Linked DNA regions of Homo sapiens: region 2 is linked to region 1. The links come from fine-mapping of genetic effects on gene expression. Tissue or cell type: whole blood. Region 1 holds a variant in brackets; the other region holds the start of a gene. All regions are shown on one strand. Distances are between the middles of the regions.

Evidence for each region. PIP is the estimated chance that this variant, and not a neighbour inherited with it, causes the effect.
Region 2: it holds the start of OSCAR, and the variant in region 1 is fine-mapped to the expression of OSCAR in whole blood (TOPMed, PIP above 0.99).

The regions. Positions count from the first base shown.
Region 1 is chr19:54,042,870-54,050,973 of GRCh38, reverse strand. The region is part of intron 4 of VSTM1 (V-set and transmembrane domain containing 1); the gene reads left to right. Among named protein-coding and RNA genes, the nearest start is that of VSTM1, 17 kb to the left of the region's middle. The variant G/C (reference allele first, on the strand shown) is at 3,168.
Region 2 is chr19:54,095,740-54,103,843 of GRCh38, reverse strand. It overlaps OSCAR (osteoclast associated Ig-like receptor), which reads left to right and starts at 3,041. Exons shown (of 5, transcript NM_133169.6): 1 at 3,041-3,088; 2 at 4,064-4,096; 3 at 6,680-6,982; 4 at 7,691-7,972. The coding sequence starts at 3,052. NDUFA3 (NADH:ubiquinone oxidoreductase subunit A3) reads right to left here and starts at 989. Exons shown (of 4, transcript NM_004542.4): 1 at 956-989; 2 at 656-730. The coding sequence starts at 965. RefSeq lists an enhancer at 224-1,200.

The DNA.
Region 1 (8,104 bases):
AGGGTGGCGTGAAGTGGCACAATCTCAGCTCACTGCAACCTCCACTTCCTGGGTTCTGGGTTCAAGCAATTCTCCTGCCTCGGCCTCCCGAATAGCTGGGATTACAGGCACCCACCACCATATCCAGCTCAGTTTTGTTTTTTGTTTTTTGTTTTTAGTAGAGATGGGGTTTCACCATGTTGGCCAGGCTGGTATCAAACTCCTGACCTCAAGCAATTCCCCCGCCTCGGCCTCTCAAAGTGTTGGGATTACAGGCATGAGCCACCGCACCCGGCCTAGAAGAACTTTAAAGCCCATTTTCTCAATGTTATTGGGGAAACTGCTGTGTTTTGGGGGGTGGAGGATGAGGGGAGATAACCTCTAAAGTGCTTCCGGGTTCTGAAGAAGCTGGTGTGTAAAACAGCACAGAGTGCGTTGTTTGCCATATGACATGATGAAAAACTAGGGTGGGATTTGGGGAATAATGGGGGTGAATTTTTCAGTGACCCATTTGGGGAGTAGGACCAGGACCTACGCAGAGTAGGTACTTCAGGAATATATATAATCAAGAGTTTGTTATAACTCTAAAATTCTCAAAAATAGGTGAATATTGAATTTTTTTTCTAATGTTGCTTATTCATTAACAATTGACTAAGATTCTGTCCTCAGAGTTTCTCATAAAAATTAGAGCTTTTGGGCCAGGCGAGGTGGCTCACATCTGTAATCCCAGCACTTTGGGAGGCCGAGGTGGGCGGATCACCTGAGGTCAGGAGTTCGAAACCAGCCTGGGCAACATGGTGAAACCCTGTCTCTACTAAAAATACAAAAATTTGCTGGGCATTGTGGTGGGCGCCTGTATTCCCAGCTACTCAAGTGACTGAGGCAGGAGAATTGCTTGAACCTGGGAGGCAGAGGTTGCAGTGAGCCGAGATTACACCACTGCCCTCCAGCCTGGGCAACAGAGTGAGACTCTGTCTCCAAAAAAAAAAAAAAAAAAAAAAAATTAAAAAGTTAGAGCTTTTGGCAGCATTCGGCTGAAACAGGAACTCATCCAGACTTTAAGGGCCAAATGCAGAATATAAATTGGCATCTAGATGCTTAATCATCCTTCCTTTCAGCAAGTCATAATCTTCCTGCAACCTACTCCAAAGAGCCAAAGTTGCTGAAGGTTGTTGCTAGCAGTCTGTGCTGGTATAATCGGTTTTCAAAAAGGTATCCTCCAAAGTGTTCTTGCAAGATAACTATTTGAAACGTTTTTATTCCATGATAGTAGGCTTGGGAAATGTCTGCTACCCTAGCACTACGAACACAATTCACGTCAGGAACGTTTTCTGAGAAAGATATGAAATCTAATGGGAGAGAGGAACACAGAAGTATCAGAAACGAGGTGGGAGATCTAGTGAGGTGTGAGGGGGAGGAGGAAGAGAAGCTTTTCTATTTTGAGCTCTTGTATCATTTATTTTCTTTCTTTTTTTATTGATATATAATTCACAGTCCAAAAATTCACCCTTGTAAAGTGTCCAATTCACTGGCATTTTGTATCTTCATGAGGTAGTATAACCATCACCACTACATAATTCCAGAACATTCTCATCACCCTAAAAGAAAATCTTGTACCCATTAAGCAGTCACTCCTCATTTCCCACTTTCCCACCAGGCCCTTCCAACCATTCATATGCTTCTCTGTGTCTATGATTTTGTCTATTCTGGACATTTTGTGTAAGTGGATTCATACACTATGTGATCCTTTGTGACTAGCTCCTTTCTCTTTAGCATAATGTTTTCAAAGTTTGTCTGTACTGTAGCATGCATCAATGTTTCATTTCTTGTCATGGTGAAAAGCATCGTATTGTATGGATAGACCACATTTTGCTTATCCATTCTTTTTTTTGTTTTTGTTTTTGTTTTTTTGAGACGGAGTCTTGCTCTGTCGCCCAGGCTGGAGTGCAGTGGCACAATCTCAGCTCACTGCAACCTCCGCCTCCCAGGTTTAAGTGATTCTTTTGCCTTAACCTCCTGAGTAGCTGGACCTACAGGCGCCCGTCACCATGCCTAGCTAATTTGTGTATTTTTAGTAGAGAGGGGGTTTCACCATGTTGGCTAGGCTGGTCTCGAACTCCTGACCTCAGGTGATCCACACGCCTCAGCTTCCCAAAGTGCTGGGATTACAGACTTGAGCTACTGTGCCTGGCCCCGTTCTTCTTTTGATGGACATTTGTGTTGTCTGCACCTCTTGGCTAAAGCGAGTAATGGTGCTGGAACACTGTGGTAGGAGTATCTGTTTGTCTCCGCGCTGTAAATTATCTTGAGTATGTACCTAGAAGTGGATTTGCTAGGACATATGGTGACTATTATGTTCAACTTTTTGAGGAACTGCCAAATCATTTTCCATTGTGGCTGTATCATGTTATATTCCTTCCAGTAATATATGTGGGTTCCAATATCTCCACATCCTTGTCAACACTTACTTTTCTTTTTTTAAATTATAGCCATCCCAGTGGGTATTATATAATTTCTTAAAATGTACTTTTTGAGTTCAAATTTGTATCATCACAATTCTAAACAGAATAAAATATCTTTGCCGGGCGCAGTGGCTCACGTCTGTAATACCAGGACTTTGGGAAGATGAGGCAGGAGGATCACTTGAGCCCAGGGGTTCAAGACCAGCCTGGACAACTTGGTAAGATCCCATCTCTACAAAAAATACAAAAATTAGCCAGGCGTGGTGGTGTGCACCTGTAGTCCCAGCTACTTGGGAGGCTCAGGCAGAAAGATCGTTTGCGCCCAGGAGGTTGAGGCTTCAGTGAACTGTGATTGCGCCACAGCACTCCAGCCTGGGTGACAGAGCGAGACCCTGTTTCAGTAAATAAATAAAATAAAAGTAAAATATCTGTAAGCACAGGTATGATGTCCCCAGCCTGTATTTATATGCCTAAAACACACTAGAAAACGACTCTATGTTCAATCGCAATGTAGAGAATGAAGATGAATTTTATCACACAAGACTTGACTTTCTTTCTGGTGCCTGTGCCTCCATTTATGCCCCGTGTCAGGCTGTATCTTGTTGCTCACGCTGACTTTAGTAGCGTAGCAAGTTATGATTTATTCTGGCAATTTGCAAATACTGATGCAACATTTGGCCAGGATCTGTGGACATCTCAGGGTGAACCCAGTTCAGCTGATTATGG[G/C]GTCATATGAAGATGAGAATTTTGCAATAATGTACTTCTCATTTCTAGTGAATTGCTGTGTGAAAGATACCGTAGGCTGGAAAAGGGGAGAACAGAAAGGACAAGGCAAGGCTGCTGTTTCTCTGCTTCCATCTGGGGAAACTGAGAGTCCAGGAGCAGCTGTTCCTGCCCTGTTTTCATAAGTCCTTGGAGATGCACTGATAGAATTGTTGCTTATGGCCAGGCATGGTGGCTTATGTAATCCCAGCACTTTGGGAGGCCAAAGTGGGCAGAACACTTGAGCTCTGGAGTTTGAGACCAGCCTAACCAACATGGTGAAACCTCATCTCTACTAGAAATATAAAAAATTAGCGGGGTGAGGTGGCGGGTGCTTGTAATCCCAGCTCCTTGGGAGGCTGAGGCAGGAGAATTGCTTGAACCCCAGAGGGGGAGGTTCCAAAGCCGAGATTGTACCACTGCACTCCAGCCTGGGAGACAGAGTGAGACTGTCTCAAAAAAAAAAAAATTGTTGCTTTTGAGGGGTTCTCTGATTCAGCTCCACCAGAAGCAGGCTCTTAGACAGCATTAGTGTGAAAGTGACGTTTTATTTTATTTATTATTTATTTAGTTTTGAGACAGAGTTTCGCTCTTGTTGCCCAGGCTGGAGTGCAATGGCGTGATCTTGGCTCACTGCAACCTCCGCCTACCAGGTTCAAGAGATTCTCCTGCCTCAGCCTCCCAAATAGCTGGGATTACAGGCATGCACCACCACACCCAGCTAATATTCTATTTTTAGTAGAGACGGGGTTTCTCCATGTTGGTCAGGCTGGTCTCGAACTCCTGACCTCAGGTGCTCTGCCTGCCTCGACCTCCCAAAGTGCTGGGATTACAGGTGTGAGCCACCACGCCTGGCTTGAAAATTACATTTTAGGGAGTGGGGAAGAAGGGCTGGGAGGAAAATAGATTAAACAAGTGTGGGATATCTGTGTCCCTCAGATGGTATCTTTGGCTCCATCCTGCAGAAAGCAGTGGAGACAGAGAAGGTCGAAGACCAGAGGCTAGGGAGCTGGGGTCCCCACAGCCGTCAGTGGCAGTTTGTCCCGGGCATGTAAATTCCAAGGCATTTGGAGTTCTCCCAGGCAGTCCCCCAAAGAAGAGATACAAATGTTCACTTTGGAAAGGGAAAGAAGCCACGATCTAGAATGCATAAAAATGGGAAAGGGATCTGGGGAACATGGGTTGAGGAACATTGACAGAATCTATTACAGAGAGAGATGGGTGTAGGTGGAATATTGGGTGAAAAAAAATCATCATTATACCTACAATCCCATTATCCGACACAATGAGTCAGTTTCTAGACTGAGCGCTTTAAAGCCAGGATTTTTCATCATTACCTAACTCTTCAAGTTAGATATTATTAGCTCTCTGCCCCCTCCTTATATTTAACCAAAAAATAACGTATTCCAGAAAGGGAAGGGAACATTTACAAAGTCAGGAGGTAGGAGACCCAGTACTAGAACTCAAATATGTCTTGTTTCAAACTCCCCACTCCTTTTGCTGCTCCCTGATGATCAGCTCAGAAAGAACCTTATTTCAGGGAGGGGGATAGATAGATAATTAGATGTGATAGATAATAGGCAAGTAGGCAGATAAATAGATAACTAGATATGATAGATTAGATAGATACATAGATGATAGGTAGATAAGTAGCTAGATACGATGGACAGATTAGATAGATAGACAGATGATAGGTAAGTAGGTAGATAGATAACTAGATACAACAGGTTAGATAAGTAAGTAGATAGATAACTAGATATGATAGATTAGATAGATAAATAGACGATAGGTAAGTAGGTAGATAGATACAGATAGATTAGCTAGCTAGCTAGATGATAGATAACTAGATATAATAGATAAGATAGATGATTAGATAGACAGATAATTAGATATGATTGATAGATACATTAGATAGATGATAGATTAGATAGATAGATGATAGGTAACTAGGTAGCTAGATAAAGCTAGCTAGATAGATAGATAGATATACAGATACACAGATAGATACATAGATACCTAGATAGGTGATAGAGTTGCAAGATAGAAAAATTAGATAAGTAGGTGGATAGATAGATAGATAACTAGATAGAATAGATTAAATAGATAATAGTAGGTGAATAGACAGATACATACAGATGATAGATGATAGATGATAGATAACTGGTTATGATTGATAGATACATTAGATAGATGATAGATTTGGTAACTAGATGATAGGTAAGTCGGTAGATAGATAAGTGATAATTAGATATGATAGGATGGATAGATTAGACAGACAGCAGGTAAGCAGGTGGATAGACAGATAAAGATAGATACATAGATGCCTAGATAAGTGATAGATTAACAAGATAGAAAAATTAGACAGACAGATAGTTAATTACATATGATAGGATAGATAGATTGGATAGGTGATAGGCAAGTAGGTAGATAGATAAATCATAATTAGATAGGACGGATAGATTGGATAGATGATAGGTAAGTAGGTACAGAGACAGATAAAGATAGATAGGTAGATAGATAATAGATACCTAGACAGATGGTAGATAGATTAGCGAGATAGATAAATTAGATAGGTAATTCTCTATATATAGATATGTAGAAATGCCAATGCAAACATAGCGAACCAAGTAGGGGAAGCGTCTGGATGGGAGACCCTCTGTTGGTGCAGAGGACCAGGCGTGTGAAGCATCTCAGACTTGGCTCTGTAATGTGACCACAGATCATTGCACACCTAGGAAAAATTCTCAGACTCAAAGCACACTAACAAAGATAGCGGGGGTCTTGGTGAAGCCCCTTTCTGGGGCCTCACTTCTATAGTTGCTCAACTTTTTTCCTTAATCACGTTTCTGCTACTTACTCCTTAAAGTCTCACGACTTGTGTTTCTTGAATCTAAAGTGCCAAGAAAAACAAAAAACGGGGGGGAACTGCATGGACTCTGTCGCCTAGCTTTAGTAACAGGTTGCTCTCTCTTCCTCAACGCTGTGAGCTTTGGACACAACCCTTGCTGTAATCCCAGGAGTCACACGGGAATGCATGCCCTTCACCAGTGGGAGGGAAATAATTGTACTACCTTGCAGGGTTGTTGTTAAGACTTTAAAACGCTATGATGTAGACTTGCATGGCAATATTGCTCAAGAACTAGTTTTTTTTGTTTTGTTTTGTTTTTGTTTTTTAATTGGTAGAAATTTTATCTCCTGAGAGGGATGCTTTTTTGAGTTGGAGTCTTGGTCAGTTGAGTGTATGATGCAGTGATGCGATCTCGGCTCACTGCAACCTCCGCCTCCCAGGTTCAAGCAATTCTCTTCTCTCAGCCTCCTGAGTAGCTGGGACTACAGGCGTGCGCCACCATGCCCAGCTTATTTTTTATATTTTCAGTAGAGACAGGGTTTCACCATGTTGGCCAGGCTGGTCTCGAACTCCAGACCTCAAGTGATCCACCTACTTCACTCTCCCAAAGTGCCAGGATTACAGGCGTGAGCCACCGTGCCCGGCCACTGGTCATTCTTTTCTACCCTGCTCTAACCCTGTTCTTATTAGGAATCCTCCCTGAATTCTCCCAGCTGATCCCTTGTTCTGTGTCTTGGGGAATCATGTCTCCTTCAGAGAGCCCCACCCCTCCCCACTCTAAACGCCTTCCATGCCCGTGTCACTGCTGTTCATTACCTGGCATCAACGAGCTCATTGAAGTGTGTTTGAAGTTGGCTGGGCGTGGTGGTCTGTACTCCCAGCTACCCTGGAGGCCGAGTGAGGAGGACCACTTGAGCCCAGGAATTCGAGTATGATCACACCACTGCACTCTAGCCTGGGCAACAATGGGAACCCATTGGCACATCTGGGATTGGCATCCTGAGCTCCCATCTGTGACCTCCCTCCTCTCCCCTCCTCTCCCCTCCATTGCCCTCACCCTCTCCCCATAATCTTCACATCCCGTCCTTTCACATCTCTCTCTCTCCTTTAAAAAAAGAAAAAGGAAATATGTTTGAAGTTAAGAGCTGAGATCATGTCTGTGTTAGCCAGGGTTTTCCAGAAAAACAGAACCAATAGAACATATAGATATAAGCTGGGTGTGGTGGCTCACGCCTGTAATCCCAGCACTTTGGGAGGCCGAGGCAGGCAGATTGCCTGAGGTCAGTAGTTCAAGACCAGCGTGGCCAACATGGCGAAACCCCGTCTCTACTAAAAATACAAAAATTAGCCGGGCGTGATGGTGGGCACCTGTAATCCCAGCTACTCAGGAGGCTAAGGCAGGAGAATTGCTTGAACCCGGGAGGCGGAGCTTGCAGTGAGCCAAGATTGCACTATTGCACTCCAGCCTGGACGATAAGAGTGAGACTTTGTCTCAAAAAAAAAAAAGAGAACATATACATGTATATACATATATGGAGAGAGAGATTGATTTTAATGGATTGGTTCACGTGATTGTGGGGAGCTGGCAAGTCTGAAATCTGCAGGGCAGGCAGGCAGGGGATCCAGGGGAGACTTGATATTGCAGCTTGAGTCTGGAGGCAGAATTCCTTCCACCTTGGGGGACCTCAGTCTTTTCTCTTAAAGTCTTAAAGTCTTCAACTGATTGGATGAGGCCCACCCCTATGACAGTGGGTCATCTGCTTTACTCAAAGTCTATTGGTCGAAATGTCCAGCTCCAAGGAAGTTCCAGCTCCAAGGTGGGAGATCCAGGCTTGGAAGCCAGGCCATCTGTCTGGCTTCTCTTAGCTTTTCTACTCACCCCATCAGTGGATTTCAGACAGTGATTACACAGACAGATGTGGTGGCTCACGCCTGTAATCCCAACTACTCAGGAGGCTGAGTCAGGAGAATTGTTTGAACCAGGGAGGTGGAGGTTGCAGTGAGCCAGGATCACACTCCAGCCTGGGTGACAGAACACGACTCCATCTCAAAA
Region 2 (8,104 bases), 53 kb before region 1:
AAACAAAAAATTAGCTGGGCGCCTGTAATCCCAGCTACTCGGGAGGCTGAGGCAGGAGAATCCCTTGAACCCAGGAGGCCGAGGTTGCAGTGAGCCGGGATCGCGCCACTGCACTTCAGCCTGGGTGAGAGTGAGACTCCATCGCAAAAAAAAAAGCTACATTTTAACAATCCCCCGCCCCCATCCCTGCAGGAACTCCGGTGCTAATTAAAGTGTGAGTAGGGCAGTTCCAGGGCAGAGGGCAGAGATTTTCAATCAGCAAGGCACATTGGGATCATACGGGGATTTTCACAAGACACAGATTCCCCAGTCCCACCTCCACCCAAGCCAACTCAATTCAGAATGGGGGAGAGGAAAGATGAAAAGGAGGAGGAGGATCTGGACTTTTTTTTGGTGCTCAGGTGTTAAGGCATAAGCAGGGTTGAGAACGTCTCATTTAGAGGGGTTAAGAGCGTATTGGGTAGGTGGAGAGGAACGCGGGGGGCGATGGTGGAGAGGTTATAATGGGTATGGGGATAGATAAGGGGATGCCGTGGGGGTGCAGACACACTAGAGGGGACCCGAGGGCGGCGATAGGGCTTTAGGGGTACAAGATGGAGGGATGTAGGGGGACGGGGGTGGACGATGCAAGTTTGCGCCTGGAGCACTCACGCACCGAGGCCCCCGACGACGAAGGACACGACCAGCACTGGCTCCTTGTCCCAGGCATTCTTGAGGAAGGCGCCGACTCCTGAAGGGGTGGCAAGAAGCGTCACCCCTGCAAGTAGCTGCCCCCGGTGACCTCTAACCCTCTCGTGCCACCCCTGCCCTGGAGGAGCCCCCTCGTGACTTCTGCGTTCCCCTCCAGCACGGACCCCATCGCTTCCACCCCTGCCCTGCCGCACCTCAGTCCCAGGACCGCCCAGAGGTTCCCAGAACTACCCGAGCCCCGTGCGCCACCGGCACCTGCACTTACTCGCAGCCATCTTTGTCTCCGCGGCGGCGACAGCGGCGAGGACGCGGAGCACCCTGGGAGTTGTGGTCCCTATGCGCGAGAACCCGCTCCCAGGGCTGCGCGTGCGCCCTGGAGCACAAGTAGAGGCGAAAGCAAGGACGCGGAGCACTCTGGGAGTTGTGGTCCCTCTGTGCGACGGCCCGCTTTCGGAGCCTGCGCGTGCGCACTCGCGCAGAACAAAGATGGAGCCGTGGAGGTAAAGGAAGTGGTGTCAGGAGCAAGCGCAAGCCTGACTTTGCGGACCTGCGTGGAATCTCCTTAGTCTCAGCCTAGAAGTCGCTCCGGAGTGACTAGTCCTCCTGCTGCGACCCACCTAAGGCGGAACAAAATAGTCCCCATTTTATAGTTTATGTATGAAAGCCCATTTTACAGACGAAGAAACTGAGCCCGGGAGAAGGTGAATGACTAACCTGTCCTTCGAGGTCTCAGCTCAACATCGGCTCGTCCTGGAAGCGCTAGGTCTCATCCCAGATGGGTTAGGAGCTTTCTGCGGGCTCTCACAGTGCTCTGTTACCGCCATTATAGCTCAGATCACTTAAGAAACTGACCTGGTCTGGGCCAGGCGCGGTGGCTCACGCCTGTAATCCCAGCACTTTGGGAGGCCGAGGCGGGCGGATCACGAGGTCAGGAGATCTAGACCATCCTGGCTAACATGGTGAAACCCTGTCTCTACTTAAAAATACAACACAAATTAGCCGGGCGTGGTGGTGGGCGCCCGTAGTCCCAGCTACTGGGGAGGCTAAGGCAGGAGAATGGCGTGAACCCGGGAGGCGGAGCTTGCAGTGAGCCGAGATCACACCACTGCACTCCAGCCTGGGCGACAGAGCGAGACTCCGTCTCAAAAAAAAAGAAACTGACCTGGTCTTGGTCTTTCAGTCGGACTGGTAGCTGCTGCTTGAGAGCAGTAACGGAGTCTGAGTTCCCTCTGTGCCTGCCAACATGGCACAGCGAGGGTCTGGCACGTAATAGGTTCTAATTTTTTTTTTTTTCTTCTGAGATTGAGTCTAGCTCTGTCGCCCAGGCTGGAGTGCAATGGCGCGATCTCGGCTCACAGCAACCTCCGACTCCCGAGTTCAAGCGATTCTCCTGCCTCAGCCTCCTGAATAGCTGGGATTACAGGCGCGCGCCTCCACAGCCGGCTAATTTTTCTTTTTTAGGAGAGACGGGGGTTTCTCCATGTTGGTCAGGCTGGTCTCGAACTTCCCGACCTCAGGTGATCCACCCGCCTTGGCCTCCCAAAGTGCTGGGATTACAGGCGTGAACAACCGCGCCCGGCCTAGAGGGGCTAATTTTTATCTATCTATCTATCTAACACAGTATCACACCAAGAGCCTGGCACATAATAGGTGCTAATTTTTCTCTGTCAACCAATCTATCAATCGATCAATTAATCACAGCAAGGGCCTGGCACATAATTGGTGTTAATTTTTATCTATCCATCAATCAATCACAGCAAGGGCCTGGCACTTAACAGGTGCTAATTTTTATCTATCTATCTATCTATCTATCTATCTATCTATCCATCCATCCATCTATCTATCTTTCAATCACAGCAAGGGCCTGGCACATAATAGGTGCAAATTTTTATCTATCTGTCAATCAATGACAGCAAGAGTCTGGCACATAATAGGTTCTTATTTTTAAAACAGACAGATATCTTTCTATCTGTCTATCTATATTTAAAGACATGGTCTCACTCTATCACCCAGGCTGGAGTGCAGTGGCACAATTTATTTATTTATTTTTTAGACAGGGTCTCGCTCTGTTGCCCAGGCTGCTCTTGAACTCTTGGGCTCAAGCGATCCTCCTGCCTCCACCTCCTGACTAGTATTTGTTTCTAGAGTTAAATAAATGAACACCACAGGTTATGACTGAACCCCCTGCTAATTTTTCCACAGTGCCATAGGGCTATGACACAGTCACCCACAGGCCCCCACCTCGATACTCTCTTCCGTAAATGAGGATCTGGGTCTGGTTTTCTGATGTTGCCTCATTTCCTGGGAGGGGAGAGGGTGCGACCAAGCCCTGGCTCCAGCTCTAGCGGGTATCTGCCCACCATGGCCCTGGTGCTGATCCTCCAGCTGCTGACCCTCTGTGAGTCACCCCTTTCTTCTCCCTGGGTTCCTGGCTGGGGTTGGGGGCAGAGAGAGAGGCAATGGAGACCCAGACACCCTGCAGGGGGACCAGGCAGCAGGTTTGGGATTCTAGGTTCAAATAAAGAACAGGGCTGGGGCCCAGACCCCTGGGTCCTAAAGCAAGAGAACACAGATTCCCGAAAGAGGAAGGAGGTGGGGACAGGTATCTCTGGTTCTTGAGGCAGGAAGAGGTCAGGAGACAGGGAGGACTCCCAGATTCTTATATGGGAGGGGGATGGAAGCCAGGACTCCTGATTCCCTGGGAAAAGGGGGCTGGGAACAGGGCTCTTAGCTCCTGAGAGAAGAGGGAAATGGGGACCCAGATTCCTGAACTCGTGAGAGGAGAAACTCTACGATCATTGTTCCCTGGAAAGGTGGAGTTCAAGGGCCTGAACTCTTGGTTGCCCAGGCCAGAGGGGTCTGCGTTCAGACTTCTTCGGTAGGTGGGCAATGGATGTCCAAATTTCTGCCTACTGAGACAGGAGGAGGGAGGGATAAGATTCTCATTTCCCAGAGGAGATAGGAGCTGGGAACTCAGATTCCTGGGTTACCAATGAGATGGGGCTGGCCACAAAGGGTTTTGAAAAGAACTCGCTGTTGGGCGCAGCGGCTCATGCCTGTGGGAGCCGAGGCCCAGCACTTTGGGAGGCCGAGGCGGGTGGATCACCTGAGGACAGGAGTTCAAGACCAGCCTGACCAACATGGCGAAACCCCTCTCTACTAAAAATACAAAGATTAGCCTGGTGTGGTGGCGGGCACTTGTAGTCCCAGCTACTACGGAGGCTGAGGCAGGAGAATCACTTGAACCTGGGAGGCAGAGGTTGCAGTGAGCTGAGATCACACCACTACACTCCAGCCTGGGCGACAGAGTGAGACTCTGCCTCAGACAAAAAAAAAAAAAGGAAAAAGAAACTAGTCCCTCAACCTCCTACAGGGCCTCTGTGTCACACAGACATCACTCCGTCTGGTGAGTAGCCACCCCATCCACTCTCCTTTTGTTGCTGACACCCCTTTTCCAATTACTCAGATTTTATTTTGGTGCCCAATCCCATCCCAGATATCCTTATTTTCCTCCCTCCCTCCATTCCTTCCTTCTTTTCTCATTCCCCTTAGTGGCCATTATAGGTGAGTACTGAAGACCAGGAACTTCTGAGGCAGAGGCCTAAGCTAGGACCTCAGTTTCACCATCGTATTCATTTATATGTGACCATATGACCTAGAACAAGTCACAGCTTGCTAAGACTCCATTTCCTTCTCTGTAAAATGGGCCGCTGTGAGATCTCATCAAATCACATGTGCAAAACCCTGAGCCTGGCACAGTACAGGGCTTAAGAAATAGGATCTTGGGCTGGGCGCAATGGCCAACGTCTGTAATCCCAGCACTTTGGGAGGCAGAGGCGGGCGGATCACAAGGTCAGATCGAGATCATCCTGGCTAATGTGGTGAAACCCCGTCTCTACTAAAAAAAAAAAAAAAAAAAAAAAATTAGCCGGGTGTGGTGGGACGCACCTGTAATCCCAGCTACTCAGGAGGCTGAGGCAAGAGAATCGCTTGAACCCAGGAGGCAGAGGTTGCAGTAAGCTGAGATCGCGCCACTGCACTCCAGCCTGGGTGACAGTGCAAGACTCCACTTCAAAAACAAACAAACAAACAAAAAAAACTCTTTTGGAGATATTTCAGTGTCGCTATAGCTATCTCTACCTATTTATTTTATTTATTTATTTATTTATTTTGAGACCAGTTTCTCTCTGTCGCCCAGGCCGGAGTGCAGTGGTGCAATCTCGGCTCACTGCAACCACCTCCTGGGTTCAAGGGATTCTCCTGCCTCAGCCTCCTGAGTAGCTGGGACTACAGGCACACACCACAATGCCCGGATAATTTTTGTATTTTTAGTAGAGACAGGGTTTCCCCATGTTGGTCAGGCTGGTCTGGAACTCCTGACCTCAGGTGATCCCTCTGCCTCAGCCTCCCAAAGTGTTGGGATTACAAACATGAGCCCCCTCACCCGACCCTTATTTTTATTCATTTTTAGAGATGGGGTCTCATTGTGTCACCCGGGCTGGAGTACGGTGGCTCTATCATAGCTCACTGCAGCTTTGAATTCCTGGGCTCAGACAATCCTCCAGCCTCAGCCTCCCAAAGTGCATGCCACCATGGAGTTCTCACTCTGTTGCCCAGGCTGGAGTGCAGTGGCATGATCTCAGCTAACTGCAGCCTCCGACTCTAGGGTTCAAGTAATTCTCCTACTCAGCATCCCAAACAGCTGGAACTACAAGCTAGCACTACCACGCCTGGCTAATTTTTCTGTTTTTAGTAGAGATGGGATTTTACCATGTTGGTCAGGCTGGTCTTGAACTCCTGACCTCAGGTGATGCACCCACCTTGGCCTCCCAAAGTGCTGGGATTACAGCTGTGAGCCACCGGACCCAACAGCCTTCCTGTACTCTTAATTTGTGTGATTTGTGAATAAGTGATATCTGCCAGTACTATCATTTGTCCTCTAGTTTTGTCTTTTAGCATACACAACTTAAGAAATTTGAAGTGGTCAAATTAATTAATCTTCCATACAACTTTTTATTTTATATTTTAAGAAGCCTTCCTTACCCCAAGACAAATATATTTTCCTATAGTTTTTTGAATACTTTTATAGTTTAAAAAAAAAGAAACACAGGGTCTTTAATTAATCTGGAAGTTGTTTTGGGAAATGGTATGAGGTAGGGATCCAACATTTTTCTTTTCCAAATAGCAAGTTTTGGCAACTCTTGAAATACTATATTGCAAATATTCTGGAAAGCTATTTAAAATTAGAGTTCTGGCTGGGCGTGGTGGCTCACACCTGTAATCCCAGCACTTTGGGAGGCCGAGGTGGGAGGATTGCTTGAGCCCAAGAGTTCAAGAGTAGCCTGGGCAATATAGCGAATGCTCGTCTCTACTAAAAATTAAAAAAAAAAAAATTAGCCTGGTGTAGTGGCATGTGCCTGTGGTCCCAGGTACTCAGGAGGCTGAGGTGGAGGACTGTTTGAGCCCAAGAGATTGAGGCTGCAGTGAGTTGAGAACATGCCACTGCACTCCTGCCTGAGCAACAGAGCAAGACCCTGCCTCAAAAAAAAAAAAAAAAAAAAAAAAAAAAGTCTGGGTGTGGTGGCACAAGCTTGTAAACTTAGCACTTTGGGAGGCCGAGGTGGGAGGATTGCTTGAGGCCAGTAGTTTAAGACCAACCTGCTCAACATAGGGAGACCGCCCCCTCCCATCTCATTACTTAAAAATAATAATAATAATAAAATTACAGAGTTCTGGGACCTGACCTTTTGAAACTGTGTTTACAAACTGTGGAGTAAAGCTCAGAAGTTTCTGTCCTGCCCCTCTGATTTGCACCTGGTTTTAACAAGGCTTGATTGTAGTCCAGTCTCTCCCTGATTTTACAAACAGGAAACTGAGGCTAAGAAAGGGGCAGTAATTGTCCAAGGTGATTTTCCTCCTTCCCCAACTTCCCTTTCATCTTCTGGGGCTCCCAGGAGGCCCGAGGACCCAGGCAGCCCCGTTTATTCAGTCCCCCCAGCTTCATACCACCCTAAGCCATGGCTGGGAGCTCAGCCGGCTACAGTTGTGACCCCTGGGGTCAACGTGACCTTGAGATGCCGGGCACCCCAACCCGCTTGGAGATTTGGACTTTTCAAGCCTGGAGAGATCGCTCCCCTTCTCTTCCGGGATGTGTCCTCCGAGCTGGCAGAATTCTTTCTGGAGGAGGTGACTCCAGCCCAAGGGGGAAGTTACCGCTGCTGCTACCGAAGGCCAGACTGGGGGCCGGGTGTCTGGTCCCAGCCCAGCGATGTCCTGGAGCTGCTGGTGACAGGTGAGGTCCTGGGGTCGGGGAGGAGAAGTGGGTGGAACAAGGGAGTTGGGGGAGGGACAGAGAGATATAGGGAAAGAGAGACAGAGCGAGGCGGGCAAACAGATTCACAGACACAAGAAAAGACAGATACAGAGACACTAGGGGGAGAGAGAGAGACAGGGGAGCAGAGAGAGAGAGAGGTACAGTGCGGGGGGAGAGAGAGAGAAAGAGGCAGAAGGAGAAAGGGAGGCAGAGAGAGAGGGAGGCAGAGAGAGAGGGAGGCAGAGAGAGAGGGAGGCAGAGAGAGAGGCAGGCAGAGAGAGAGGGAGGCAGAGAGAGAGGGAGGCAGAGAGAGAGGGAGGCAGAGAGAGAGGGAGGCAGAGAGAGAGGGAGGCAGAGAGAGGGAGGCAGAGAGAGAGGCAGGCAGAGAGAGAGGCAGGCAGAGAGAGAGGGAGGCAGAGAGAGAGGGAGGCAGAGAGAGAGGGAGGCAGAGAGAGAGGGAGGCAGAGAGAGAGGGAGGCAGAGAGAGAGGGAGGCAGAGAGAGGGAGGCAGAGAGAGAGGGAGGCAGAGAGAGAGGCAGACAGAGAGAGAGACAGGCAGAGAGAAAGAGAGGCAGAAAGAGAGAGAGAGGCACAGAGAAAGCGAGAGACAGAGGAGAAGGAGAAACAGAGCGAGCGAGCGAGCGGAAGACGCTCACGCGGCCCCGGACTCTCACCCCGTCTCTGCAGAGGAGCTGCCGCGGCCGTCGCTGGTGGCGCTGCCCGGGCCGGTGGTGGGTCCTGGCGCCAACGTGAGCCTGCGCTGCGCGGGCCGCCTGCGGAACATGAGCTTCGTGCTGTACCGCGAGGGCGTGGCGGCCCCGCTGCAGTACCGCCACTCCGCGCAGCCCTGGGCCGACTTCACGCTGCTGGGCGCCCGCGCCCCCGGCACCTACAGCTGCTACTATCACACGCCCTCCGCGCCCTACGTGCTGTCGCAGCGCAGCGAGGTGCTGGTCATCAGCTGGGAAGGTGAGGGCCCTGAGGCCCGGCCCGCCTCCTCCGCCCCAGGAATGCAGGCCCCAGGACCTCCGCCCTCAGACCCAGGAGCCCAGGCCCCCAGCCTCTCCTCCTTCAGACCCAGGGGTCTAGTCCTGCAGCCCC